7 linked regions of the Homo sapiens genome follow. The protein of the gene in region 6 purifies or fractionates together with the protein of the main gene of each other region. This does not show direct contact. Each region holds a gene or a part of one and is shown on either strand. Other genes may lie near its edges. The genes, in order: BMS1, PUM3, DHX57, ATIC, DHX30, PHF2 and ANP32B.

Evidence for each region.
Region 1: the proteins of PHF2 (region 6) and BMS1 purify together in Homo sapiens (affinity purification with mass spectrometry, with the first as the bait; one large-scale study listed by BioGRID). This does not show direct contact.
Region 2: the proteins of PHF2 (region 6) and PUM3 purify together in Homo sapiens (affinity purification with mass spectrometry, with the first as the bait; one large-scale study listed by BioGRID). This does not show direct contact.
Region 3: the proteins of PHF2 (region 6) and DHX57 purify together in Homo sapiens (affinity purification with mass spectrometry, with the first as the bait; one large-scale study listed by BioGRID). This does not show direct contact.
Region 4: the proteins of PHF2 (region 6) and ATIC purify together in Homo sapiens (affinity purification with mass spectrometry, with the first as the bait; one large-scale study listed by BioGRID). This does not show direct contact.
Region 5: the proteins of PHF2 (region 6) and DHX30 purify together in Homo sapiens (affinity purification with mass spectrometry, with the first as the bait; one large-scale study listed by BioGRID). This does not show direct contact.
Region 7: the proteins of PHF2 (region 6) and ANP32B purify together in Homo sapiens (affinity purification with mass spectrometry, with the first as the bait; one large-scale study listed by BioGRID). This does not show direct contact.

Annotation. Positions count from the first base shown.
Region 1 is NC_000010.11:42,813,449-42,817,455, forward strand, and holds part of BMS1 (ribosome biogenesis protein BMS1 homolog), read left to right. Parts: intron 1-3,150; coding exon 3,151-3,224; intron 3,225-3,869; coding exon 3,870-4,007. UniProt on the Homo sapiens protein: GTPase required for the synthesis of 40S ribosomal subunits and for processing of pre-ribosomal RNA (pre-rRNA) at sites A0, A1, and A2.
Region 2 is NC_000009.12:2,805,683-2,809,689, forward strand, and holds part of PUM3 (pumilio homolog 3), read right to left. Parts: intron 2,223-4,007; coding exon 2,132-2,222; intron 1-2,131. UniProt on the Homo sapiens protein: Inhibits the poly(ADP-ribosyl)ation activity of PARP1 and the degradation of PARP1 by CASP3 following genotoxic stress. Binds to double-stranded RNA or DNA without sequence specificity. Involved in development of the eye and of primordial germ cells.
Region 3 is NC_000002.12:38,851,549-38,855,555, forward strand, and holds part of DHX57 (putative ATP-dependent RNA helicase DHX57), read right to left. Parts: intron 3,705-4,007; coding exon 3,509-3,704; intron 2,631-3,508; coding exon 2,506-2,630; intron 2,418-2,505; exon of another isoform or gene 2,333-2,417; intron 1-2,332. UniProt on the Homo sapiens protein: Probable ATP-binding RNA helicase.
Region 4 is NC_000002.12:215,325,362-215,329,368, reverse strand, and holds part of ATIC (bifunctional purine biosynthesis protein ATIC), read right to left. Parts: intron 3,383-4,007; coding exon 3,231-3,382; intron 2,548-3,230; coding exon 2,391-2,547; intron 1-2,390. UniProt on the Homo sapiens protein: Bifunctional enzyme that catalyzes the last two steps of purine biosynthesis.
Region 5 is NC_000003.12:47,841,032-47,845,038, reverse strand, and holds part of DHX30 (ATP-dependent RNA helicase DHX30), read right to left. Parts: coding exon 3,861-4,007; intron 3,423-3,860; coding exon 3,302-3,422; intron 1,934-3,301; coding exon 1,784-1,933; intron 1-1,783.
Region 6 is NC_000009.12:93,574,949-93,579,632, reverse strand, and holds the start of PHF2 (lysine-specific demethylase PHF2), read right to left. Parts: upstream 3,050-4,684; 5' UTR 2,860-3,049; coding exon 2,762-2,859; intron 1-2,761. UniProt on the Homo sapiens protein: Lysine demethylase that demethylates both histones and non-histone proteins. Enzymatically inactive by itself, and becomes active following phosphorylation by PKA: forms a complex with ARID5B and mediates demethylation of methylated ARID5B.
Region 7 is NC_000009.12:98,010,517-98,014,523, reverse strand, and holds part of ANP32B (acidic leucine-rich nuclear phosphoprotein 32 family member B), read right to left. Parts: intron 3,254-4,007; coding exon 3,135-3,253; intron 2,104-3,134; coding exon 2,052-2,103; intron 1-2,051. UniProt on the Homo sapiens protein: Multifunctional protein that is involved in the regulation of many processes including cell proliferation, apoptosis, cell cycle progression or transcription.

The sequences.
Region 1 (4,007 bases), on a different chromosome or scaffold from region 6:
TTGTAATATAGTAGTCTACTGGTACCAGTATTTACCACTTCAAAGTGTGGAAACCTGCCTTGCATTTATGTCTCTTTACCTTTTCCGCTTGTATGAATCACTGGCTTGAGTATTAGGTGGTGGTATAGTTTTTGTTTCAGTTGTCAAGTGTGATTTTAAGAACTGCGGATTGTCTCGTGTATGTATCCACATTTCTGGTCTTTCCTTTGTCCCTCCTCCCATAGTCCCATATTCATCCCTTCTGCATAAGAACTTTCTGTAGCCATTTTTTTATTTTGATTTTTTTGTTTTAATTTTTTGTATTGTGGAAATGACAGAACATATTTCTGTAGCCACTTTTTAGCATTTCTAAATTTACCAGAGACAAATTCCTATATTCTCTTCCTCTGATAATGTCTTTATTTCTCTCTTCATTTCTGAAGGGTAGTTTCATGGGATATAGAATTTGCAACCAACAGTTTTTTTGTTTGTTGGTTTGGTTTTTTTGTTTGTTTCTTTGGTTGGTTTTTTTTAAGCACTTGAAAATGTTGTGCCACTTCCTTCTGGCCTCCATGGCATTTGAGTTGGCATGTCCCTACAGGCATTCTGCCATTTTTGGTCTTTGTTTTTAGTTTTGAAAGTTTAATCAGTGTTGCTTTCTTTTGTTATACTTTGAGGTTTGCTCAGCTTCTTGAATCTGTAAGTTTATATCTTTCACTAAATGTGGGAAGCGTCAGGAATTAGTTATTTGCATGCTTTTGCAGCTCTGGTCTCCTGTGGGACTCAGATAACATAAATGCGGGGTCTTTTGTTATTGTCCCACAGGTCCGTGCAGCTCTGTTCATTTGTTTTCAGGTTATTTTCTCTCTATTGTTTAGACTGGGTGAATTCTGTTGATACAGGTTTCAGCTTCTCTGATTCTCTCCTCTGTCGTCTCCACTTTTACTCAATAGAGCCCATCTAGATAGATTTTTTTTTAATTTCTGTTACTGTATTTTATATTTCTGTAATTTCCATTTGATTCTTCTTCAGTTTCTTTGCTGACGTTTTCAGTTCTTTGTTTGTTGCCATAGGATTTGTAGTTGCTTGTTGAAGCATATTTATGCTGACTGTTATAAGTGATGAGTCAGATGGTTCCAACATCTGCCTATGTAATTTTTTTATTTTTGCAGGCAGTCCTCCTATTTGGGTTTAGTCTGTAGGTCCTGGTCTACTTTGTGGGCTGTGATTCCAATGGCAATTTAATTTCAGAGCCTTCATGGTGTTATTTTGGTCTGTTTGGCTTATATGTATCACTGGGATTCTCCCACCAGTCCCTGCTGTTGCCCACCTGAGGGAACAGGGGAGCTGCCCCAGGCTGGGCCACCTGCTGCAGCTAGGTGGGTGGGGAGTGGTGGTTGTCTTGGTGTGTGGAGCTGGTTTTCTTGTTATGGGGAAGATTTCCTTTGATCTGGGGGGACTGAGTCTGCCTGGGTTGCCTTCTATTGCTACGTTGGGAGTTGGGAAACTCTGGGCCTGGTCAACTTCCTATTGGATGAGGTCCAGGGAGACACCTGGCCACTATGCATTCCCTAGTCCTAGAGTCCCTCAGCAGCCTTTTTCTTTCCACCTTTCAGAATTCTCCTTTGATCATCTCCTGTCTATTATTTCTTAGGAGGGTATAATGTGTTATCTTCTCTAGACCAGAAATCCTTAATGGTGGTTTCAGGTTGTAACTGTGCTAAAGGGAGAATTGGCGTATTTTTGATGTTGAGTCTTTCTTTTCAAATGAGGACATATCATTATTCAGTAGATAATATTTACAACACCTACTTCCTTGGGTTGAAGAATGTGGTTAAGGCAAGGAAAGTACTTAACACAGTGCCTGGTGTGGAGAGCACCGATGAGTGTTGGTGGTGATGCTATTCCTTTTGTCCTTTGGTAGCATATTAAAGCTTTTCTTCTTTTTTAAAAAAATAAAGTTCTGGTGCATTTCTTGTTAGGTTTATTCCTATTTTATCCTTTTTTGCTTTTATTACAAATAGGAGCTTCCTATCTATTATAACTTCTACCTGGTTCTTTGGCCCTTATGTGAAAATGTTTTAATAGCCTTCTAAACATTGCTCTCCCAAATGAGTTTTAACTTGCCTATTTCTTTTATTTTCCTTTTTTTGAGACAGGGTCTCACTCTGTCACCCAGGCTGGAGTTCAGTGATGCAATTATGGCTCACTGCAACGTCTGCCTCCCGGGCCCCCAAAGTGCTGGGTTTACAGGCGTGAGCCACTGCACCCAGCCTTACTTGTCTGTTTCTTTTAAGAGTGGGAACTATAATTGAGCCCAGAGCTCCAAAAACAAATGAAGGAATGAATGAGTGAATAAGCTCTTCCCATGGGTTTGGTGTGGTTTGGGGCTCTACTCTTAATCTAAATGCTATGTTTTATATAACCTAAAATTTCCCCTAGGTGTGTTACACGATTGTGTTGTGTTGAACTTACATTGAGACTCCTTTTCACATGTGCTGGTATCAGCGTGGAGCTTTTCTATTCATTCCTTGAACTATTCGTTTGGGGGACACACATAGACCTCTGTGTCTTTCATAAAGAGTGTCCATTGGCCAGGTGCAGTGGCTCATGGCTGTAATCCCAGCACTTTGGGAGGCTGAGGAGGGCAGATCACGAGGTCAGGAGTTCGAGACCAGCCTGGCCAATTGGTGAAATCCCATCTTTACTAAAAATACAAAAATTAGCCAGGCTTGGTGGCGGGTGCCTATAATCCCAGCTACTCGGGAGACTGAGGCAGTAGAATTGCTTGAACCCGGGAGGCGGAGGTTGCAGTGAGCTGAGATCATGCCACTGCACTCCAGCTTGGGTGACAGAGTGAGACTCTGTCTCCAAAAATAAAAAACAAAAACAAAAGAGTGTCCATTGTGTATACTGGAAAAATTGAGATTGGGATTTTGATGTGAAGTGCGGAAATGTGGATTGGGTCCATTTAGTTTACCTAAACAGATGATGAAATACTAACTGTTTTACAAAGCATTCCCTAGTGCAAAGTTTTGCCTGTGTGTGTAGTGACAGGAACAGTGAGAATGAGGCTTGGAACGCAGAGCACACTGTGGGCCTGTGGTAGGTGGGGCCAGCAGCACATGCATACCTGGCTCACAGAGCAGCCTTTGGGTGTTCTTTTCCCAGAGGAGCTCTACGGTGACTTTGAAGACTTGGAAACAGGGGACGTGCACAAGGGAAAATCAGGCCCCAATACTCAGGTATGACTTTGTCGTAGCTGGCTGTTCTTGGTCATTGTGTTCTGAGAGAGGCCCACATTGAGAAATGCAAATCTTACTTGTGATGTGTGAAGATTGCAGACTGGATAGATAGATTCCTTCCTAAAGGGTGGGGATGTGGGGACCAAAGAGAAGCTTTCTTGTTTACTTGTTAAGTTTTGGATGACAGTTACTACCGTTTCTTGCCATAGTCATTTGCCAAGTCCACTGTGATTTTTCACTCACGGAAGTCTTAGCTTCTTGGACTTACATTCAACCATTGGCATCATTCTCCTTTTTTTAAATTTAAGTGTCATTTAAAAGAATGAAGTCCCTGTTCTCCCTAGTATTTCTTTAGAACAGGGTCTGGGAGCATCTGGGTGAGGGACACGTCTGTTATTTTTATTCTAGTTTGTGTTCCCAGCCAGCTTAAGGATTAGCAGCTAATTGTAATGCAGATGTAACCATTTCCTGTAGCAGTACCATGTTATTCAGAGACAAAGGTTGTGTTGTGTTTTCTTTTGTTTTATTGATAATGATAACAGATTTTTGCTAAGATTCTTGTTTAAATAGAACTTTAAAAAAGCTAATGTTTAAAGAAAAGACCTTCATAAACATACACAAAATTTTTTCTTCTGGAAATTTAAGAATGAAGATATAGAGAAAGAAGTTAAGGAAGAAATTGACCCCGACGAAGAAGAAAGTGCCAAGAAAAAGCATTTGGATAAGAAGAGAAAATTGAAGGAGATGTTTGATGCAGAATATGATGAAGGAGAAAGCACATAT
Region 2 (4,007 bases), about 91 Mb from region 6:
GTAAGTTATTGCTTACTGAGCATATGCCACATATTAGACATAATGCTAGGCATTTTATATGCATCATCCAATCTAGTTTTCATAACGACCATAGGGTTATCATTAATCTCATTTTTTTTACCACCAAGAAAATTAAGGCCCAGAAAAGCTGAATAATTTTCCCAAGGCTATGCACTAAGCTAGAACCCAGGCAGTCTGTCAAGTGCCAATGCTCCCAAATGTTAGAGAATTCTGCTTCTCTGAGTTACTTTTCAGCCAACATACAAGGCTGATTTTCTTTTCACCCAAAATTTACAAAAACAATTTTTTTGTATTATTGTTATATATAGCTCAACTTCCATTTAGAACTTCAAATATTTCCTCTGCTCCTGTTCCAATTCTGAGTAGTGCTCCATAATAAACCTATAGTATCCTTCCTATGTTTGAAATCCACCTAATGGGAGTTCTGATTGATGAACAACCTTTATAAATTAATTTCATGGCATTGCTGAAATTTCCAGTTAATTGAGTGTAATGAAAGAATGTGTCAGTAGGTGTTAACACTCCAAATGCCTGGTAAAAAAATTTGTAATGAAAAAGTTCATGTATCAGCTAACGAATTCTGACTGTTTAACATCAACTGGAAAATTAACTAATTTTAAGCAGAAATGAACAAAATGATCTGTAACACTTATATATTTGGAGACACTGACATACCTGAAGCTATGAATGCTCCTGTGTGAGTATTATGTGTACCAGATCACGTATATGTTGAAGAAACACTTAAAATAACATTTACAAACAACATAGATTAAGTTGCATAGCATGTTGCAAGTAAAGTATCTTGAGAAATTCAAACTAGGGTTGGTATCTGTTTTCCCAAACCTTAATAACACAGCAGGGGAAAAATCAACAGTAATTGCTTCAAAGCAACATACAAATCTTTTTTTAAATGAATGCTCTTAACAGAAGGTTTTCATCTGCACAGAGAATGTATGGAAAATTTCAATGATTTGTGGATTGATTATAAACTCAACTAAGTTCAGAGAATAATACAAAAGAGGCCATAGCTCATCACTGTTTTTTTCTCATTTTAAGTCAGATATCAACAAATAGCACACACACTTCAGTAGCAAATGCTCTTCCAATCCTTTTACAATCTTTTAAAACAATGAAGGAAATTACATGTAGAATTAGGCATGATTTAAAAGTCAACATTGTCACAGTTTTCACAGGGATGTAAGTTATTCATTAAAAAAAATACAGGCTGGGCACAGTGGCTCATGCCTGTAATCCCAGCACTTTGGGAGCCCGAGGTGGGCAGATCACGAGGTCAGGAGATCGAGACCATCCTGGCTAACACGGTGAAACCAGGTCTCTACTAAAAATAAAAAAAATTAGCTGGGCGTGGTGGCGGGCACCTGCCGTTCCAGCTACTCAGGAGGCTGAGGCAGGAGAATGGCATGAACCCAGGAGGCAGAGCTTGCAGTGAGCTGAGATCGCACCACTGCACTCCAGCCTGGGCGACAGTGTGAGACTCCATCTCAAAAAAAAAAAATTATGTTTTGGTCAAAACCATAAATGTGGTGAAGCCACCTGATACCTTGTGAATGTTATAATTTGTCAAAAAGATGGTAGTTTAAAAATCCTAAGGGCCAAGCACAATGGCTATGCCTGTAATCCCAGCACTTTCGGAGGTCAAGATGGGAGGACTACTTGAGCCTAAGAGTCTGAGATCAGCCTGGCCAACACAGGGAGACCCCCATCTCTACAAAAAATAAAAAAATAAAAATTAGTTGGGTGTGGTGGCATGCGTCTGTAGTCTCAGCTACACAGGAGGCTGAGATGGGAGGAAAACTTGAGCCCAGGAGGTTGAGGCTGCAGTGAGCTGAGATCGTGACACTGCACTCCAGCCTGGGTGACAGTGAGACTCCATCTCAAAAAAAAAAAAAAAAAAAAAAAAGATTCCTAAGGACTGACTGAAAGAGTTACATTTGCTTTCTAATATTTGGTATGTTTGTCTAGACCATGAGTGACTGGGAGTAATATTAGACTACTGAGAACAAATATTAGAACTGAGAAATCAACGTGAAGGAAGTGTGTCTTTTGCATGACCAGGCCCTGCTCAGAGAAGGGCACATGTTATACATACCTAGAAAGAATAATGGCACCTCGATTTACACTAGCCCAGGACTTCAGGTTCTTCATACCAACATGCTCTACAAGTGTTTTTGCAAAACAACCTGTAAAATATACTGAAGCTTAGTGAACATCACATAATAAGATATATACTCCCTACCCCCTTCTCTACTGCCCTTAAATCTGCAAATATTTTTAAACAAAAAAGCTAACAAAAGTAGCTTTCACCCAATCTCCCTTTTAACACAAAAAATTCCAGTGCAGGTTTATCTAATGCATTTCTAAAAGAGCCATTTCTTTTAACTCTGATCCAAAACCTAAGCTATGTTTAGCAGTAATTACTCAAGATAAACTATGAATTCTAATAAAACACTCACTTGGTTATGTCTGCACTTCTTTGTATTATTTAATGATTTAACTTTGACCTGAAAGCTATTCAGGAAATAAATGTTTCACAGTAGCACCTCATGCTTGGTTGAAATCAAGTTCTTCCTCATGGAGAAATGCTCACTCACAAGGTGCCATGAACATAACACAGTGTTCACGTGTTCAACAGTGGTTGATAAATGACTGTTCTAGCTTAAACTTGGCATTTCTCTTTACAACGCTTACATACTCACAAATCAAAAATACCATTTTTCTCCCGTTATTCTAGTATTTGATTCCCAAGGTCGTGGTATTATCTTTTTCACTTTGCAATTAATGCTTGGACAAAGGAGAAATTCTGATAGCTAAGATTTAGTGCAGATGGAGGTAGGGACAACCTATCTTGAAGGCAAACATCATAGTCAGGTAGCATGTACTATATAATTCATTCAAAGATACCTGAATGTAAGGACTCTTTAAAAGCCAAGAGGCCTATGGCTATTCAGCCTTTCATGGTACCTGCTAAAGAGGGACAGAGTTCAGCTAGTGAGGCAAATTGTTTTCCAAAGCTGACCACAATAATATCTCCTGTCCTGTGTGCTCTTCTAGAATGCAGCCACTCCCCCATCTATAGGGGGAATCCATGTCTTCTTTTGAATCACAGTGGGCCTCTGTGATTGACTTGACCAAGACAGTATGATGAAAGTGGCATTAAATGACTGCTAAGGATAAATCATGGAAGTGCCACGCATTTACTTTGTCCTCTTGGGATGCTCACTCTTAAAAAAGCAACCACCATCTCGTGAAGGAGCCCAAGCAGCCTAGAAAGGGAAACTGAGGCTGTTGGTCCCCAGCCAACAGTCAGTACTCACTTGCCAGCCATGTGAGTGAGCTAAGCGAAAAGTGGACACTCCAACCACAAACCGAGCAGCCCTAGATGACTCTGACTCTGAGCATAGAGGGGCAGGCTCCACCAGACCCTGATCAAGTCATTGTTTTGAAAACTACTAAGTTTTAAGGTGGCTACTATCCAGTAAAAGAGAATCAAAACAGCTAGACGTGCAGGAGGACAAACTCATTTGGTGCTGAATACGACAAGACAAACACATCAGACCCAAACTGGCAGATTTTAGGGTTCTCAGCACATTTTAATTAAGAGGGAGAAAAACCACTGGACATTAAGCCAGACTACTTTTCTGGCATAAACTCAACTATACATCAACTTTTTAATAATGAAAAAGATTATTCCATATGTTATTTTTTTCTTTAATATTTATCACAAGGCTTCTCTTTTACAAAAAAATTTAGTGAAAAATAGCCCCAGGTCCCCATTCTTAAAGGTAAGGTGAGAAGTGACAGCTCTACTGCTATACTGATTGCCACACTAGCCATCAGAGCTGCCACTTGCCGCAAGACATGAATTCATGATCTGTCACTTTTTTCCAGACATTGTAATGAAAAGCCCAAACTGTTTTAACTCAGTAGGGGAAAAAAATCTCTCCAGTGGTTTAAATACCAGATGG
Region 3 (4,007 bases), on a different chromosome or scaffold from region 6:
CTCCACTGTGTAATTAATCTTTATTCAGATGTGAACATCTTTTGAATTTTTAACGTTCATATTCTACAGATCCTTAGGTTTTATAAAAATCTTTCTCCTATTTTAGCCAGGAACCAAATCCAGTGCTATGTTCTCATTTCTTCAAGTTTGTGGAAGTACAAATGTTATAGAATCCAAAGCTACTCTTCATATTCAAAATTATACTGGATATAGGTTTCCCTAAAAGTTTAAACTTATCTTTATAAATCAATCATTTAAATACCATTAATCTGAGAGAATGTTTTATTTGGCTTCCTCTTCCAAGTTGTTCAATGATTTTGTTAAAAAAATTTCTTCTTTCAGATGTTCATTTCCAACAGTGGCAAAATGACATTATTTACCATTAATTTTTTTTCCCATTGTTTTCTGGAGTTTCTACAAAAAGATTATTTGCCCCTTAGAGATTTCCAATGTTTTCTGTATAGTAATTTAATATTTATTATTGTCTTGTTCTAGGAATTATTTCTTTTTCTTTTGGTTCATTCTTTTTATCTAAAAGTCTTTCTTTAGTTTCTAATTACTTCATATTTCTTATTTACTAATAATAGTAATGTATTATTTCTTCTAATAGTTCTTCTGGTTATATGCCTTCTCTGTTCAATTCCTTTTTTTTTTTTCTTGCTCTGTCGCCCAGCCTGGAGTACAGTGGCGCAATCTCGGCTCACGGCAACCTCCGCCTCCCAGGTTCAAGCGATTCTCCTGCCTCAGCCTCCCGAGTAGCTGGGACTACAGGCGCCTGCCACCAATCCTTTTTTTTTTTTTTTTTTAATGTTTTGCTTTTAGCTATTTTCTGCTTTCCTATCAGTCCACCAAGTTTACTTAGACTTTTTTTCTTCTTCTCAAGATATTTATTGTGGTACAATACTTTGTGGGAAAACTTCATAATTTTCACAGGACTTTCTCTTTTTTCCCACTAGTTTTCTTTTACTGCTCTAGGGCATGATCCACATGACAAACTATGATTAATGCCATCCATCTTCCTGGCCCTCCTCAGTACTTAAAATATTCAGACTTTTAATTTTTTTTTTTTTTTTTTTTAGAGATGGAGTCTCATGATATTTCCCAGGCTGAAGTGGCTCTTCACAGGTGCAATCATAGCACACCACAGCCTTGCACTCCTGAACTTAAGCAATCCTCCTGCCTCAGCCTCCTCAGTAGCTGGAACTACAAGCATGCACCACTGTGTCTGGCAAGAATTTTTATTTTATGCCTCACCCTTTAATGACTTCTAATTTCATAAGATAAAATCCACATGCTTTATTATTCGTGGTGCTTAAGGCCCTGGAAGGTCTGGCTCCTGCTGCTTCTTCCCTGTGCTACTTTCCCCTTTGCTGCTACACAGCAGGTGCACTGGGCTTCCTTGTTTCTGGACTCACAAAGCCCCTTCCCACTGCAAAATCTTCAAACATACTTTCCTTACCCCCGTTTGTCACCTGGGATTCCTTCTCATATTTCAGTTTTCTTTTCTTTTCTTTTCTTTTCTTTTGAGACAGGGTCTTGCTTTCTTGACCAGGGTGGAGTGCAGTGGTGCTATCACAGCTCACTGCAGCCTCAACCTCCTGGGGGCTCAATTGATTCTCCTGCCTCAGCCTCCTGAGTAGCTGGGACCTTAGGTGTGAGGCATCACGCCTGGCTAATTTTTTTTTTTTTTTTTCTGTATCCCCAGTAGAATGACTACTGGCTATTTTTTGTTTTGTTTTGTTTTTTTTACTTTTCGTGGAAACATGGTCTCACTATGTTGCCCAGGTGGGGCTCCAACTCCTGAGCTCAAGCGATCCTCCCACCTTGGCCTCCCAAAGTGCAGGGATTATGGGTGTGAGCCATTGCGCCCGGCCATACTTCAGTTTTGAATTTAAATTGTCATCTTACAGAGATATGATCTTTGAGCATCTATGGGTCTCTCCCTCCAAACACAGCATGCCGTTTATTCCTTCATAGTGCTTATTCCAATTTACAATCATTTGCTTGTTTACTTGTTCATTATTTGTTTTTTCTACTGGACTGTAAGAGATGAGGGGGAGCCATACATGCTTGTTCATCACTGTATCCCCAGCAACTAATATATCACTTGGCATTTAATGCAGGCTCAATAAATACATGAATCAATGTCAGGACTGAATGGCCAAATAAACAAGGAAGAAGATACATTCAGCCACAGCATGCATGACATCTGTTATTTCTACTAAGTACGGTATTCAACTTAGCATAATGCCCAGGATGGTGTGAAGTATACCTTCTAACCTAACAGGATGACTCCATCTAATAAGTGATGAGCATGTGCTGTCCTTTTTAGTGTTACAGACCCTGGAGATCAAGAAAGCAGTTGCTCTTCTCTAACATAGGCCTTCCTTGTGGCAAATTACCATTACTAGCTGCATGAAACTGAATTGGAACTAGAAAACAATTTTTTCTGCCATGCCTTCAATTCAGGTGAGTGTGTGTTCCCTGGGAAAGTCTTTGTTTTACCTTTCTTCTGTCCTCTCATGAACTTCATCAACAATGATATGGGAAACTCCTTGTAGAGCTGTATCTCCTTCTAGCCTTCTCAGCAGCACTCCCGTGGTGCAGTATAACAGTCTGGTGGCTGAGGACTTACACATGAAAGGGCAATATAAATCATTAATAAAATTTTCAAAAAAAGGAAACATTACTGGAAAGCCATTTTGAATGGATAGTGATAAAAAATATTGGAAACACCAGCAGTTCCATTTAATAGGAAACCATACTAAACATAGTTTCTTGCCAGGGACAGTAATAAAAGCCTTTCTACTTCATATCACAATGTTAAGATTTTCATAAAAAGCATTAAAAAACAGTGAATAATGAAAACAGTTCTCAATCTGTCTGCTCCTTATTTGGTTAAATGGATTATGTCCCAAGTTCAAGAGCAAAACAGTCTTTACTAGATGACTTCTGCCAATAAAAAATAAAAAGCTTTACAGAGGAAATTTAGTACAACCAAATAAGAGTTTTTTTTTTTTTTTTTTTTTTGAGACAGAATTTTGCTCTTTTTGCCCAGGCTGGAGTGCAATGGCGCAATCTCGGCTCATTGCAACTTCCGTCTCCCAGGTTCAAGGGATTCTCCTGCCTCAGACTCCCGAGTAGCTGGGATTACAGGCGTGTGCCACCACACTTGGCTAATTTTTGTATTTTTAGTAGAGATGGGGTTTCTCCATGTTGGTCAGGCTGGTCTCGAACTCCCGACCTCAGGTGATCCACCTGCCTTGGCCTCTCAAAGTGCTGGGATTACAGGTGTGAGCCACCGCGCCTGGCCATAAGAGTTCTTATACCAAAATATTTCTAAATATTTCTAAATATTTAAATAAATGATTACCAAAGGTAATCATTAATTTAAAAATAACCTGAAAGTATATATCCCAAATTGCCCATGAATCTCCTAACCCCCAAAACTTTTTATACCTAAAAACCATAAATTTCTGTTACCAGGAAATAAGCAGAGCATACAAACCTTGACACTTTCTAACCGAATCTGGTATCCCACGGTCAGACCCACCCTCTCTGCTCTTTCTTTAGCAACGCGTTCAGCAACAGAGATTGCAGAGATTCGTCGGGGTTGGGTACAGATGATGTTGGCTACCTTCTCAGGTGGTCCATTCAGAGAATCATCCAGAATAAACTGCGGAATTTGTGTGGTTTTCCCACATCTGTACATTAAAACAAATAAGTCCTAAAATGAAGTTTTCAAGGGCTAGTTAACTAAAGAAGCAATCATATGGAATGAGAAAAGTGATAAAGCTAATTAGAATAAAAGTTGTTCAGTTTCAGGTATTTTCTAAAACAACCTCCTGACTTATTACCAAGAGGTGGGAAATTCTAGGAATTTGCACTCCAATCAAAAGGACAATCAAATAATAGTTTAGTAACATTTGTAAAATTGGGACTATTGAACAGACATTAAATTAAGGTCTGTAAATGCTTCTAGGAACGTAAACTCTACACATGAACCC
Region 4 (4,007 bases), on a different chromosome or scaffold from region 6:
CTTTAAACTTCAAAAGAAACGCACACACAGTCTAAGGAACAATGAAGGCTTTTATATAGTCCAATGAAAATGCTTTGGAAAATGAAAAGTATAAGAACTGACAGTACATGGGGATTTTTTTGTCTCAGAATCTTAATGGAGAATATAAACTATAAGCAGGAAATAGGTCAGATATAACAGCAGACAAATCAGTTTCAAGAAGTCCTACAAGGAAAAATTTGTGCAAAATGTCAGGTTGCTAATTATTCATTCAGTAAACATTTAGGGAATGTGCCAAGCAGTCTTCTAAGCCCTGGGGATTCAGCGACAAACAAAAACAGATGCAGCTTCTGCTCTCAAAAGCTGACATCCTGGCTGGGCGCTGTGGCTCATGCCTGTAATCCCAGCACTTTGGGAGGCCGAGGCAGGCAGATCACCTGAGGTCAGGAGTTCAAAACCAGCCTGGCCAACGTGGTGAAACCCTATCTCTACTAAAAATACAAAATTAGCCAGGTGTGGTGGCAGGCGCCTGTAGTCCCAGCTACTTGAGAGGCCGAGGCAGGAGAATCACTTCAACCCGGGAGGTGGAGTTTGCAGCGAGCCAAGATCGCACCACTGCACTCCAGCCTGGGCGAAAAGAGTGAAACTCTATCTCAAAAAAAAAAAAAAAAGGAAGCTGCCATCCTAATGGGGGAAGACAATTTGAACAGATTGAATAGAAACACATGCAGCAAAACAGGGTGATGGGATGAAAGCATGATGGGCTGCTACTTTGGTCTAAGCGGTCAAGGAAGGCTTCTCTGAGGAGGTGAGGCCTGAATAACAAGAAACCAGGACGGTGAAGGGCAGAGGGAAGAATTCTGGGTGAAGGGGACAAGGAGCCAGAGGCGCTGGAGTGGAAAGAGCTGGGCCCACTTGGAGGCACAGGGCGGAGGGGCTAGCAGCAGGCGCAGGGAGAGCTGCTGAGGGGGCAGATAGGAGGCAGGCAGGCAGCACAGGGTTTGTGGGGCAGGGCAAAGTGCTTAAGAAAAGCCAAGGAATGGCTTTAAGTAGGGTCTGACATCATCCGATTTCCATTTTTAAAAGATTACTGTGCTGTGAAGCCCAGAAAGGCCGAGAGAAAACAAATTACTTAGATTACTTCAGCCTACAGGACTTCACAGGGTGTCTGTGGGGATTTGGGAAGTGTTAGTGTCAAAGTGTATCTGAGATCTGAGGCCAGGTGTGGTGGCTCACGCCTGTAATCCCAGCACTCTGGGAGGCTGAGATAGGCAGATAACTTGAGGTCAGGAGTTTGAGACCAGCCTGGCCAACATGGTGAAACCCCATCTCTACTAAAAACAGAAAAACTAGCCAGGCATTGTGGTGCGCACCTGTAATCCCAGCTACTCAGGAGGCTGAGGCAGGAGAATCGCTTGAACCAGAGATTGCGCCACTGCACTCCAGCCTGGGTGACAGAGCGAGACTCCGTTGTCTTAATTTAAAAAAAAAAAAAAAAAATCTATCTGAGGCAGAACAATAGAACGCGGCAAACGTGAAGAAACTTTCAGATTCTCCTCCCACCTGGCACGCTGCTCCCCTCCCCCATCGCTCTCTCAGCTGATGACAGGGAAAGGAAGCCCAGGCTGCACCCCCTCACCAAATGCTGACCGCCCCAGGCAGGAAGGAGGCTGCCCTTGCTCTCAGCCAAGGCCAGCTGCACCGGTAGTGCTTGGGATTCCAAGGCCTCCATGCCTGGGACTCTCACCTCTGTCCCTGCCCCTACTCTCCCTTGTACCAGAGCAGGACAGGCTCTCACAGCCTACCTTTGGAACAGAACAGGACACACATTTAAAAACCCTCTCTAAACTCTACAAACCCAGAGAAAGTCCTACTTTCTTGTTCCAAGAAACCTCTTTATCGTTGTTAGTTCTTAACATCACATTTCTGCTTTGGCCTACTTCAATTGGGCTTCTAGATCCAATATTCCAAGGCAACGGCTTCTTACAATATGTGCAAAACAAACAGTCCCTTTTCTGTTCTCAAATGCATTCTAAAAGGTTGGAATTTCACAACTTTTCTTCTGCTGGTTCCTCCACAGTACACCTACCAAGCCTTTACCCCAAGGCTTTCTTGACCCTCTTCTCTATAAAATCCAGGCCATCCCATCCTGTCTCATGTCTTCAAAAAGATCTACGTGGCAGAGACATTCCAATCTCCATCTCCCCCATGACATCTTTTCAGAACTCCAGACTACTCAACTTCTGTGCTCTTCAGTCCAAATGGCGTCTCAAACCAGATGGTTATCAGATGGCTACAGGAGGCATTACGGAATGTATCATCTTCTGAATGTGAACCACATCAGATGCAATACAGAGAAACACACACTCTCCAGGCACAGCAAACCATGCCACAGAACGCTCGGGCTTTACCTGTGATGGGAAGCTTGGGCTGCAGTGTGTACAGCTGGGCAGGGGTCTGATGTGGGTTCATTCCATATCTCAAGGGCATCTGAGATACGCCTTTGCTGTACTGTTTCCTGAAATAATCTGAAATTGCTTCATCATATTGTGCCGTATGAGTGAATGCCTACAAAAAGCGTAAGTTTTGTGAGACACGAGCAGCACTTTCCAAAGTGGGGACAAGATGGTTTTCTACGTCCACAGCAAACAACATCTCCTCACTATTCAGTGCTATGTGGTGGCTGCACAACACGATGACACCATGAATGACAGCAAAGCACTGAATGGCCCAACAAATTACCCCTTTCCAATTCTTTTTCAATCTTTTTTTTTTTTTTTGAGACAAAGTCTCACTCTGCTGCCCAGGCTAGAGTGCAGTGGTGTGATGTCAGCTTACTGCAACTTCCACCTCCTGGGTTCAAGCGATTCTCCTGCCTCAGTCTCCCGAGTAGCTGGGATTACAGGCGTACCACACCACACCACACTCGGCTAATTTTTGTATTTTCAGTAGAGACAGGGTTTCACCACATTGGCCAGGCTGGTCTCAAACTCCTGACCTCAGGTGATCCGCCCGCCTCGGCCTCCCAAAGTGCTAGGATTACAGGCGTGAGCCACCGCGCCCAGCTCTCTTTCAATCTTTTTGACAGAACACCTCTGTAATAGCTGGTTTCTCCATTTTTAACAAAAGGATAGCAGCTCCAAGCAAAGCTTTGGTAGGTAATGCAATCTACCAAGAACTGAATACTGCTTGGTCTGGCAAACACTGCACTCCATGGATGTAACTTACAATATCATGAAAGTGCATCCCACCTTCAAGGCTAACTGGCGTCTAGTCTCCAAGGAGGTGTCCTTACTCTCGGAGCTCTGCATCTCCGTGGACACCACCACATAGTCCTCTGGTTCACACACCACTGTCACTCGAGCGTGGTTTTTGGCTGCAGCTCTCAGTAAGGTTACTCCACCTTTGAAGAACAAAAGACTTATTGATTTTTGTATGTCCCTATCAGCTTATGAACCGCTTTTAAATAAAGTCATTGTGCATGTACTTCCATTTTAATTCCTGACTTAAAAATCAGGAAAATAAGCTGGGCGCAGTGGCTCATGCCTGGAATCCCAGCACTTTGGGAGGCTGAGGCAGGTGGATCACCTGAGGTCAGGAGTTCGAGACCACTCTGGCCAACATGGCGAAATTCCATCTCTATAAAAAATACAAAAAAAATTAGCCAGGCGTGGTGGTGTGCACCTGTAATCCCAGCTACTCAGGAGGCTGAGGCAAGAGAATCACTTGAGCCCAGGAGGCAGAGGTTGCAGTCAGCCAAAACTGTGCCACTGTACTCCAGCCTGGGTGACACAGCAAGACTTCATCTCAAAAAAATAAAAATAAAATAAATAAATAAATAAATCAGGAAAATAACCCAGATGCATCTCTGCATACAAAAAAAGCTTAGAAAATATAAATGAAAAAAAGAAAATATAAATGAATTATAGTAATCCCAAAACACAATCCAGAAGTAGCTATTTTCTTTCTATTTCCTCAGTAATAAAATTCAAAATGAAATCTCACTAAAATTTAAATAATCCTCTCCT
Region 5 (4,007 bases), on a different chromosome or scaffold from region 6:
CCCTCAGACCAGCCAGGCCAGGCCCTCGATGCTAGAACGCACCCCACAGACTCCCTCTTCCTTTGCTGCCTCATCAAAGCCTTCCTCCCCTAATCCTTCCATCCCGCCTCCCAATCCCTACATGGCACCCGACCCATCTGTGACCCCATCATATACAGATGCACGTGGAATTTCCTGTAAATGTCGATTATAATGCAACTTGATCAAACAAGCCACTGGAAGGAAAACACTGTGTCTTACCTCCCTACATACCTAAAGCCACCTCACCAGAGATAAAACATAGCATTCCAATACCTCACGCACATGGGTAAAACTAGTCTTGTGTTCCTGTCACCTCTAATGGCTGGACTCTGCTCACCCTTCGGAGCCCAGATCAAACACTCCCTCCTTAAAGAAGTCTTCCCCCAACAGGGGCCAACCCCCTGCCTCTGGGCGTGCTGGCACCATCAGCTATAAGGACCTAAAGGACAGGAATCTGGTCCTCATACCACAGGAGGTGCCAACACAAGCTCCTTGCTGCAGGAACAGGCTTCTGCCCTCTCCCCAGACTTCATGGGTTTTACCCACCAGCCTCACTGACAAATGGCCCTCCAGCCACTGCAAAGCTTGCTCCTTCCCAGACAGGCCCCTACCATGCCAAGGTGCTTCTGCTCACAGTGCGTGTGCATCAGGCCAAAGCTCAGATGCCTCCAGTTCTACTCAGTCCTTGTTCTGCCCTCGAGTCACAGGTAGCATATCTGTGCCCTCTTTATCTCACCAATTGCCTGTCCCCTCTTCCTCGTCTTTCTCCAGGTTCTTGTTACCTCTCACCATCAGCTGTAACTAAAACATGGTTCCCAGAGCCAACTGTACCCATGAAATGGTGCACCTGACCATTCAGAGTAAAGCAGGCCCATTTCTATCTTGGTCTGCAAACTAAACCTCCACCAACATGGGTTGAGATTACTAACTCCTCAGGCAGTCAGAGACAATCCCAACTCCCTCCCACTACTGTGCCATCAGCTAACTCCACCAGCCCCTTTCAAGAGAACGGCCATGGCCAGGAGCGGTGGCTCACGCCTGCAATCCCAACACTTTAGGAAGTGAAGGTAGAAAGACTGATTGAGCCCAAGATTTTAAGACCAGTCTTCGCAACACAGTGAGACCCTTGTCTCTACAAAAAATGTTTAAAAATAAGCTGGGAGTGGTGGTGCATACCTATGGTCCCAGCTATGCAGGAGGCTGAGGTGAAAGGATCGCTTAAGCCTAGGAGATCGAGGCTGCAGTGAGCCATGATCGTGCCACTATACTCCAGCCTGGGCCACAGAGACCCTGTCTCAAAAAAAAGAGAACTGCCAGCTGTCTGCCACACTGTCTCTACCTTGATCCTGACTGCTTCCTCAATCATCACTGCAGTCACAAGTCACATTATTCATTCTGCCCACAAAACCCGGGTTATCAGGATCATACTGGACACCAGGTCTGCCTCTCAAAACAGGCCCGGCTCCTCCCGGCTTTATACTATTCAGAACAATGAGCAAGTTTCCTCCCGGCCTCACCAGGTTCAGGCCAACAGTGTGGAAAATGCTGGGTCACGGGCAAAGTATCTCCACAGGGCCTCTGGAAAAGCCATGGCAACAGCCACAGGGCCTACAAGCGAGGCCTGCATACCAGCTGTCTTTGTGCCAGGCAAAAGGCCTGCTGTGGTGGTTTCATTTCCTAGAAAATGGGACCCATTTGCCACTGGCAGAGGGGAGCTTCAAGACATTCTCATGCACCACACCCAGGACCTTCCTGGACTCACCTTCAGTTTCTTGCAGGCCAAGGCTGCCGCCTTATTCTCAGCCTCTGCTTTGCGGCGCCCTTTGGCAACAAAGGTCATGGGGCAGGGCCAGAGCAGGGTGAGTGTAGACAGCTTGGTCTTGGTGCCCACAGTATGGAACTGCATGAGGTTCTACATGGAAGGCAAGAGAGATGGTTACAGAAATGTAGGGAATGGGAAGAGACTTGGGGCATTCTCAGAATGCCAAGGAGCCCAGAGACAGAATGAGCCACCATCTCAGCAGGTGCCAGGCGTGAGCCATGCTAGAGGTGCTGCTGCATAGCCAGGAGCAGGCCCATGGGCTCAGGCACCCTAGTCCCAGGCTCGCTTCTCCTGCTATACCTCGACTTCCACTGCAGAAGACAGTGCTTGGGCAATGCCATCACCTGCCCTCCTAGCCCACTGTCATCTCGGCAACATCGTGGCAGCTGTGGGTTGAAGCTGTCAGCATGAGCTAAAAACCAGGCACATCCTGCGGGAGCAAAAAGACCCTGCACCTGGACAGAAGCTCTGCTTAACTGTTGTACTTAGGCGAGTTAAGGAAACGCCACACTTTGAGACGAATTAAGAGTCCTTTATTAAGCCGGCGGCCAAAGAGACAGCTAATGCTCAAAATTCTTTCGGCCACGAGGAAGGGGCTCGATTAACTTTTATACTTAGGTTTAGGAAGGGGAGGGGGACTTAAATGTAATAATTCTACAGAAGTAAAAACATGCAAGAATCAAAAGAATCAAAATGGTTACAGAGTGATAAACAACTTAAAAGACAAATGGTTACAAGAAGAGCAACAGTACCAGGTGCAAGATTCTAAATCTTTCATTATAATTAGATATAGGGTCTACGCCAGACACGAACTCAAGGTTTTATGTTGTTATCTCTTGGAGAAAATTCCTGGGAACTTCATATATTGTTGGTGTTCGTACCTTATCAGTTAATTAGGCTCCTTTGAAATGCTGAGGATCTGTTTACCCAGGCCAACTCCTTACGAAAGGGGGTTGGGTGAGGAGCCCTTAGTGTCTTGTAAATTAAGGGGTCAATTGGGGTTTGTACGGCTTTCTTAGCTAGAGAGAGTCTTATTTTACATGAGAAGCAAGGCTAGGTGATTAAAGAGACAAGCAGGACAAAATTCAAAGCAACGAGTTAAAGTAAAAACAAGGTTAGGCATTTCATGACCAAAGCCCCTTCGCCTGGCAGCAAGAGAGAAATTCATACCTCACCAAGACCCACACCTCTAACCCTTCCCCACTGACAATCCACCGCCCAGAAGAGGTATGGGTCTTCTGCTCTTGCGGCCCCCAAGCCCACTCCCTGTGCTGCTGAGGCTTGACCTCCATTCCATCACACCTGCTGCTTTTCCTCCCAAGCAGGAGTTCCTCCACCTGGCCTAGGTTTGGGCTGGAGGAACACACCCCCTCAGCCCTCTCTAAACCTGCCTTTAGGGAACACCAGACATGACCAAGTAAACGGCCCCCACACAAACTTCTAGGAGACCCAACTCACCTTAGCTGTGGAGGATGACGTTGCAATCTGAATCACCTTGGCCAGAAGGTTCTTGGGAAGTGGAAACTGGGTCAGAGCCCTAATGGCACTGTCGTCATCTGTCATCTCAAAGGAACTCCCCCTGGGAGGACCAAAAGTTTAACTGAAAGAATTCTCTCTTCCTGGACCAATTTCCCTGAGGCTCTGCGATGTAGGGGTGAGGACGCTGCGCTGCAGCAGGGAGCCAGAAGGGCAGAAGGCATGAAATGGATGGGAAACCGGGCGTCTCTGCTCCTCCCACAGCCACACTGCATGGGGACTGCTCCCTCCATTCCCTCACACAGATAAGATAGCAGAGAGCAGGGGCTCCATGCTGCTGTTCTGCAAAAGCCCAGCCACATAGAAGACCACAGCTGGCTGTCCCCCAAGAATGGGCAGACACACACTGAGTGATGGGGCACACAGGCTGAAATGTGAGGCAGGGGCGCTCCCATCTCAGAGAAAGCTAGCAGAGAACATTCGCCCATCCCCGTGTCAAGGCACAGCCAGCCTCTGCTGCATCCCCATCCTCCATCTGTACCTTGAGTCCCTGAGTGGAGCGTGGGAATCCTGCTGGGTCATGGACAAGAAGTCGGTAACATCTATGGTCCCTTCTTCTAGCTCTTCCTCCTCGTCCTCCTCTTCTTCCCGGCCTAAAGAGCGGGATAGGCCCCCAGGTCCCCCTGGT
Region 6 (4,684 bases):
GTTTTATTTCAGGAAATGATATGAAGTTTCCTTTTAAAAGCAATATTTTCGAGAGTAAGGAGACATGAGGATTAAATGCAAGGTGGGATCCAAGAACAGAAAAACGACATTAAGTGGGGAACACTGGTTAAATACATTTGAATAAAGCCTGTAGTTTAGTCAGCAGCCCGGCACCAGCGTTAACTCCTTCATTGTGGTACTGGTCCCATGGCTGGGTAAGATGTTCACTGCAGGGAAAGGGAGAGAAGGATACAGGGAAACTGTACCATTTTTGGAACTCTTTTGTAAGTCTAAAGTCCCCTCAAAATAAAAAGTTTAAAAGTATTCAAACTTTTAAAAAGAGAGTTGAAATGTTAAATAGGAAGTAAATCACAGTACAGGCGGTACGAAGATCAGGAAAGAACCACCGGGGCCATACAAGACTATCTGGAGGTGGAGAAACCCCGGGGTCTGGTCACACACGTTCATTTTACTGATGAGAAAAGAAAAGTGATGCTGAGAGACCAAAGGATTTGCCCAGGGCTGTGAGAGCTGTACCAACACCACCAACCCCTGACGGCTGTCCTCCCCATCACACACCTGCCCAGAACAATTGGGGAGCAGGCACACCCAGAGGCTTTCTCCCTGTAGGGTTCACTTTGGCAGATGACTCTTGGTTAGATGCAGGAGAAAATGACTTTCATGGCCGAGGGAAAGCACAGCTTCTTTCAGACCCCACAGCCACCCCAAATAGGTGAGAATAAATCTGTGCTGATCAACTGCCTGTATTGGATTCAATCAGAGACCTCAAATAAGAAAAAAAGGAGCTAGAGCCTCCCCAGACATCCCCCTTTTGGGGATTTTTTGCATGGGCCAATACAGCAAATGACACCAACCAGCTCTCAGGCCAGCTCTCAGCCCCTGTCGCCTGCCTGCCCCTCATTCCTGGAGTTTTTCCCTTGGCCTCGAAGTCTAGTTCAGAACTAGCCTTCCCTTCCCAGAGGGTCCCCTAAGCAGCGAGACAAAGGTCTTCTCGCGTTCTCTCACTCTCCCTACTCTGGGCCCCGAGTGTGGGCAGCAGCCAGGAGCTGACACAGGTGCCCAGAAGGTTCTGTAGCAGAGTGACTGCGCTCGCCAGGTCAGGGCTCCGGTGGAGATGGGGGAGAAGGCAGAGGCCCCACCACTTTCAGGGCTTTTCAGGGCCAGCAGCTCAGCATCCCTGGATATGAGGAGCCTTAGAGGCTCTCACTCACTTTGGCCCGGCCATGAACTTCTCAACGGCTGCCAGTTGAGGGTGTGCATGTCAGCCCTGTTCTGGGCAGAGCCCGGTGTTCACACTCAGTCTCCCTTGCTCTAAGGGGCTTCCACAGCCCTGGGCATACCCAGGAAGGCAGCCCAGATTTCCGTGGGCATCCCCACCCCACAGAGTCCCAGGCCCTTCTAACAGCAGGGAGGTAGGACTCAGGACTGGGGCTGACAGACATAGCAGGCCCTGTCACATCCCAGCCACCCAGGTCCCCACATGTAAACTGGCAGGACTGGACTTGGGGCCACAGCCCACTCTTAAGCACCACTGACCAGTCTTGAAGACCCAGTCTTAGAACCTGCAGGAGGATCTCCTCTCTGGAAGGAGAATCCCGGACCACCCACCACCACACACCCCTCTCTTTCCCCCGGCTGCTTGCTGCCGGTGGTTTGGGACTGGAGCCCCAGAGGGCATACAGCCCTGGCCAGCCCCGGGTCCAAACACATCCCACAGGCAAAGTCAGATGCAAGAGAACCTGTTGGAGCAGTTTGGGCAACACTGTCACCTCCTCTTCCTCCTCCTCCATTTACTTCTTGGTGGGAAGGGACCTGCCCTAGGCATGGGGCCAGGTCATGGCCATCGGCAAGGGCCAAGAGGGCGGGGGTTTTCAGTGTCTCCAAGCGTTACCTCCTTCCCCCCTCCCCATCTTCCTTAGGGAGCATAAGATCATGTCAAAACCGGCGTTCCTGCCGGGAACGGAGAGGAGAGAAACGGGGAAAACTGAAGGCCAGGGAGGAGGTGGCAAAGCCACAACAAACCCCCCTTACCCAACTCACAGACACTATTCTGTCACCGCACTCCTGCCCGCGGACCTGCAGGCCTGCCGGGTCTAGCTGCTCCGCGGGGGTCCGGGAGGGGTCCTGCCCTCGGGGACAAGGTCCAAGGGAGCTCGCCGGCCACGGCGGAGGGTGGGCGCGCCGGCTGCCACCTCGCCGGAGCCCCCACGGACTCCCCAGCCCTGCCGGAGTCGGAGCCCGCCACTCGCGCCTCTCCCGGGACCCGCGCCGGGCTGCGCGCCCGCTTCTCCCGGCCCGGCCAACCCCGAGCCCGCGCGGGGAAAGTTCCTGCAACTTCGCAGGGGGGAGGCGGCGGGGGCTCCGGGCCTCGGCCTCCCTCCGGATGCCCGGCCTCTGCGGCCGCCGCGACCCAGCTGACAGGCGGCCCGGCCCGGGCCTGGAGCCCCAACTTCCCCGCGCCCCGAGCCCCGAGCCCACCTCCCGGCCCGCGGGCCTCGCTTTGTGCGCGGCGGCCAGGGGCGCCCAGCGCGGGCCCCGTGCTTGGCGCCCCCGCCCTGGGCACAAAAGGGCGCGCGGCCCGGCACGGCCCAGCCCCGACCGGGGCGCCCGGAATGCGGCGGCGGCGGCGGCGGCCCGTCCCCGAGCCGGGCCTGCGGGCGCGCAGCCGGGGGCGCGGGGCTCGGTCGGGCAAGGTGGCCGGGCCGGGCCGGGCCGAGCCGAGCAGCCGCCGCGCGCTCACCTGCCGTGGAACCAGTCCTTGCAGGCGTCGCACTCGATCATGAAGCGGGTAACGTCGTAGGGGAGCCGGCAGACGCAGTACACGGGCACCGTCGCCATGTTGCCGCGCCGCGCCGCCGCTCGGCCCCGCCGCTGCGCTGCCCGGGTCGGTCCGGGCCGGGCCGGGGGCCGGGCCGCGCGGGGGCGGCGGGGGCGGCGGGGCGCAGGCGGCGCCGCGGCCGGGAGGGGACGGGGACGGGGGCGCACGACAGCCCCCGCGCGCGCTCCCGGCCAGGCGCGTCCACACAATGCCGGGCGCGCTGGCTGGAGGGGCCGCGCCGGGAGCCGCCCGCCGGCCCGCGGGGCTCAGGGCGCTAGTGTGCGCGGGGGACGGGCCGCGCGCGGGACACAAAAGGGAATGGACGCGCGGGGGCGGCGGGCGGGGAGCCGCGGCCCCACCGAAGGGACCCCCGGCCGCCGAGCGGCCTCTACGTCAGCGCCCCGGGTGGCGCCGCCTCCGCCCGCCGGCCTGGGCCGCCGCTCCCGCCGCCGGGAAGGCGGGCTGGGGAACCCTGCGGGGGAGAAGGTGGGTTGGGGGACCCTGCCGGGGGAGAAGACGGCCGGGGGGACCCTGCCGGGGGAGAAGGCGGGTGGGGGGATCTCGAAGGTGGAAGATAGGCCGAGAAGGGCCCCCAAGGCTGAAGGTAGACCCAGGGGTCCGCGGGCGCGAAGGTGAGCTGGGGGAGCCTTGAGACTGAAAGTGGGGTGGGACCCCGGGGAGAAGGTGGGCGGGACCCCGAGGATAAGATAAGTTGGGGGAACCCGGGCAAGGCAGAAGGAGAGACGCGGGGTGCGGGAGTGGAGCCCGCAGGAGAGCCTTCCTAGTCTAGAAGGCCGACAAGCAAATACTTGGCCCTAACTTTCTTCTGACCCCCACCACGGTGGGGGTGTTCCTCCTCCTCGGCCGCGCTGCCTCCCTCCGTTCCCCACTGAGTTTCTGGTTGGGACACCACTTCCTCTTTCCCCTCATTTTCGGCTGGGGACTGCCGCCTCCCTCGCAGGATCCCGCGGACTTCCCTGATGCTCAGCCCCAGAGGAAGAGGACAGAAGCCCGGGCCGGGAGTGCGCTGGCACGGGCTGGTCAGCTCTGTTCCCTGGCATTTGAGCCCCCCAGGCCCGTGACCTAAGGGGCCGGGCTGGTCAGCTCTGTCAAGAGAGAGCTCCCTGGCATTTGAGCCCCCCAGGCCCGTGACCTAAGGGGCGAGGAGTATGGGAACCCTGGCCCCCGTGTCCAGGGAACTGAGCCCCCACGGTGGGGAGGAGAAGCGGAGGTGCGCTCTGAGGGGTCACTTGCACGCGTTCTAGAGGAGGACTTCCCTGCCTCGCCAGCGCTGCATCCTTGGGGCATCCGCGCTGGGCAGGGGCCACATCCCTGCCCGCCCTTCCTCCCTCACCCTCTTTCTCTCCCCATCCTCCCTCAGCAAAATCCGCATCGTGCTGGGAAATGTGGGCCACCCCTGCTCGGAATTCCAGAATCTCCGGACAGGAAACCTGGCTCAGTCTCCTAGCAGCATCCATGACAAGGCTCCTTAGCCCCTCAGCCCCTCACCATCACCGCCCACCTGCAGCTGCCAAGGGGCCGTTTGCTCCACCGCAGGCGGCTCAATTAAGGTCCTTCCTCCTACTGAGCCAAAATCTACCCTCAGAGTCAGCCACCCACCCCCAACAAGTGACCCCGTGGATACAGACTCAGGGCAGTGCCCAAAGCACTGGGCACTGGGGAAGGGGGCGGGGGGAGAAGTAGCTGGCCATAGAGGGAGAGGAAAGAGCAGGAGACCCCCAGCTCCCACACCTCTGGACTGGCCAGGATGGCCTGCAATAGGCCTTCCTACCTGAATTCCGGTTGTCACTGGTTCCCTTCCTCCTGGGTGAAAGCCTGGAATTT
Region 7 (4,007 bases), 4.4 Mb from region 6:
GTCGAGACACAGAGACTTACATATAGACCAATTTTTTCAACTAATAAAATCCATGGTTATTTTAATGAAATTAACTATATGTTAAATCATATTTCATACAGGTTGTTTTTTTTTTTGAGACAGACTCTGGCTCCGTCGCCCAGGCTGGAGTGCAGTGGCTTGATCTCGGCTCACTGCAAGCTCCGCCTCCCGGGTTCATGCCGTTCTCCTGACTCAGCCTCCCGAGTAGCTGGGACTACAGGCGCCTGCCACCACACCCGGCTAATTTTTTTGTATTTTTAGTAGAGACGGGGTTTCACCGTGTTAGCCAGGATGGTCTCGATCTCCTGACCTCATGATCCACCCGCCTCGGCCTCCCAATCATACAGGTTCTTAAAGGCAGTGACCAGGTCCTAACCAGGGTAATATCTAGTGTAAATGTAATTGAGAGCTTGACAAAGTGGATGCTGAGAAAACATCAGCCAACAGCACAGTGAACACCTGATTTTCTGAGACACAACCATGAGACTTTTTATTTGAGACAAGGTCTCCCTCTGTCACTCAGGCTGGAGTGCGGTGGCACTATCATAGCCTCACTGCAACTTCAAGCAGTCCTCCCACCTCAGCTTCCCAAGTAGCTGGGACTATAGGTGTGCACCACCATGTGCAGCTAACTTTTTTTTTTTTTTGAGACAGAGTCTTGCTCTGTTGTCCAGGCTGCAGTGCAGTGGCATGACCTCAGCTCACTGAATCTCTGCCTCCTGGGTTTGAGTGCGTGCCACCACGCCTGACTAATTTTTTAATTTTTAGTAGAGACAGGATTTTACCATGTTGGCCAGGCTGCTCTCGAACTCCTGACCTCAGGTGATCCACCTGCCTCGGCCTCCTAAAGTGCTGAGATAACAGGCGTGAGTCACCACACCCGGTCCCAGCTAACTTTTTAATTTTCTGTACAGACAGGGTCTATGTTGTCCAGGCTGGCATACTTTCAACAGTATTAAATAAGTAACAGCTATTTCATTTGTCTTGGTTGTAGTGGGGAAAGGACTAACACTGACAAAACTGGGAAACTGCTACATCTATTTATATATCCTGAAAATGATGGTTCAATTATTAAAGCCTTTTTTTAAAAAATGAAAGAACTCCAAACACAGAAACTCACACTTGACAGTAAACCAAATGACTGGTCCTAAAAACACATTTAAAACATGGGGAACAGGCTAGGCATGGTGGCTCACACCTGTAATCCGAGTAATTTGGGAGGCCGAGGTGGGTGGATCACTTGAATTCAGCCAGGAATTCAAGACCAGGCTGGCCAACATGGCAAAACCCTGTCTCTACTAAAAATACAAAAATTAGCCAAGTGTGGTGGTGCATGCCTGTAATCCCAGCTACTGAGGAGGCTGAGGCAGAGAATCCCTTGAACCTGGGAGGTGGAGGCTGCAGTGAGCTTAGATTGCACCAGTGAACTCCAGACTGGGCGACAGAGCAAGACTCCATCTCAAGAAAACAACAGGCCGGGTGTGGTGGCTCACGCCTGTAATCCCGGCACTTTGGGAGGCTGAGGCGGGTGGACCACGAGGTCAGGAGATTGAGACCATCCTGGCTAACACGGTGAAACCCCGTCTCTACTAAAAATGCAAACAATTAGCTGGGCGTGGTGGCAGGCGCCTGTAGCCCCAGCTACTCTGGAGGCTGAGGCAGGAGAATGGCTTGAACCTAGGAGGCGGAACTTGCAGTGAGCCGAGATCGTGCCACTGCACTCCAGCCTGGGCAACAGAGCGAGATTCCGTCTCAAAACACCACCACCACCACCACCACCCCGAAAAAAACCCCATGAGGACTGAAGACCAACAGGACCCTTGCCATGAGACAGGAATAACTGCTGTAGCAGCAGGGAGCCTGCACCAGCACAGACACACTGATGGGACGATAGAAACGAGAATGTGAATGTGTAAACCACCAGAGCCAAGAGTATTTTATTTTCTTCTCAGTGGTATCATATTCTAAATAATGGATGTTTTTCTCTAATTTTTAACTGAGAATGATCAAAATGCATGCATTAGGCCCACCTTCATCCTCATCCTCATCTTCATCTTCTTCATCAAGTCCAAATTCTTCTTCCTAAAGAATAGCAAACAGCATAACATTAAATTAATTCTGCCAAATTGAAAAGTGCATATAGTACAAATTCTGCCAAACTAAGAAGTACAAATAAATGCAACAATATCAATCAAGCAGGAAACTGTAATGTTATTTTTATCTACTTTGATGTACCAAGACCCACTGATTTTCCTTAACGAGCTTTATAATTTTTCTAAGAAAAATTTTTTTTAGAAGCAAGCAGTTCATTTGCTAGATGTTTAATTAGTATATAACTCTGGATAATTCAAGAAAACATCTTAAAATCTCAAATTTCAAAACAGATTTAGACAAAAATTTCTATATCCCATTCATATACAAAGCTTCTTTCAGAACTTTAATGTCAATCATACACCTAATGACATCACACAAACCCCAAGCCTTATTTTTATACTACAAAAGAGGATGCGTTTTGTTAACAACTAATGTTGTCTGCCTGTTTCCCAAACCTCTTTGAGGGTCAAAGTCAAGACACTGTTTTCTCCTGCCCTCGTATAGCATTTATTTCCTCAGGGATCCTCTATTATTGGGTATTTCATAAACCAGACTGTGCTCTTTCAGGGCAGGACCACAATCTCATTTCATTTTGTACTCCCAACTCTTTAACATAGCAGATATATATTTACTGAATTACACTGAATATACAAGAAAAAGTTTAGACTTGGTAAACATAAACTTCCCTACAATTCAATGAAGGAACAGACATACCATCAATTCTCAACATGTCCAGTTTTCTCACCACACTGAATACTCAATTCATTCCTTCCCCCAGAGGGCCAGAACTTACCTTGCACAGCCAGGAACCGTACTAGTTTGAGTTCAGTAGGCATTCTATTTAGTAGTTATTTAAAGCCAGACAAACACTAAATTAACCAGATTCATATTGTAAATGTATTCACAGGTATACTAATTTCTTCAAAAGGTGTTTTTTCTTTTCTTTTGTCATCTTTTTGAAACCCCCACTTTTGTTGTAATTACAAATAGGAAGCAGGGTAGAAAACAGCTGCACTGACCTCCTCACTGACTTCATCGTCGTCCTCATCCCCTTCTACATCTTCATCTTCATCATCTTCTTCATCAAACTCCTCTTCTTCACCATCCTCATCGTCCTCGTCTTCCTCATCTTCTCCTTCTAAAAATAGTCCAAAAGGGATTCATTAAATATCCTCGACGCTCCACAGGGGACAAAGTGTTGAGGATCTGTGGGCTGGCTCACAGAACAAATGCTGTAAGGCCACGAACTGCAGTCACTTTCTTTCTACTATGTGCTACAGCTCAGTCCCTTTGTCCGATAGAGTCCCATAAAATCAGAGAGCTAGAAGTCCTGGTAGATAAGACAAACACTATAATTCTCGCTGATGAAATGATACAATGGCTAAGATTTGCTTCAAAATTATATGGAGTGGGGAAGAAGGTAAGGGTATGCAGGAATAAAATAAGATCAGCTATGACCAATAATTGCTGAAGCTGAGTGATAAGAACATGGGGGTTCATTTTGCTATTATTTTTACCCTTTGTCACTGTCTGAAATTTTTGACAGTAAAAAGTTAAAAAAAAAAAAATCATGTACCTTCTCTTGGGTATCATTACCAGAGTCACAGTCAGCTGCTCAAATCAGGAACCTGAGAAACACCCATAATAACCCTGTGACTCAGGGGACAGGAGGCTGAGAGGCACCTGCATCTCTAGCTGGTTGTTCGGACCTCTAGTGCGGCAGTTCTTGCTTCTCCTGGGTCCTAGAGCACACCATGCTCTCACCTGCCTCCTGGTCTCTGCATGCTCTTTCCATCCTCTTTGCTTGGCTAACTCTGACTCCACCTTGGAGTCTCAGTCAACATCACTTCCTTAGGCAGTCTTACTCACCAGACCTCCCAATGCCAGGTCAT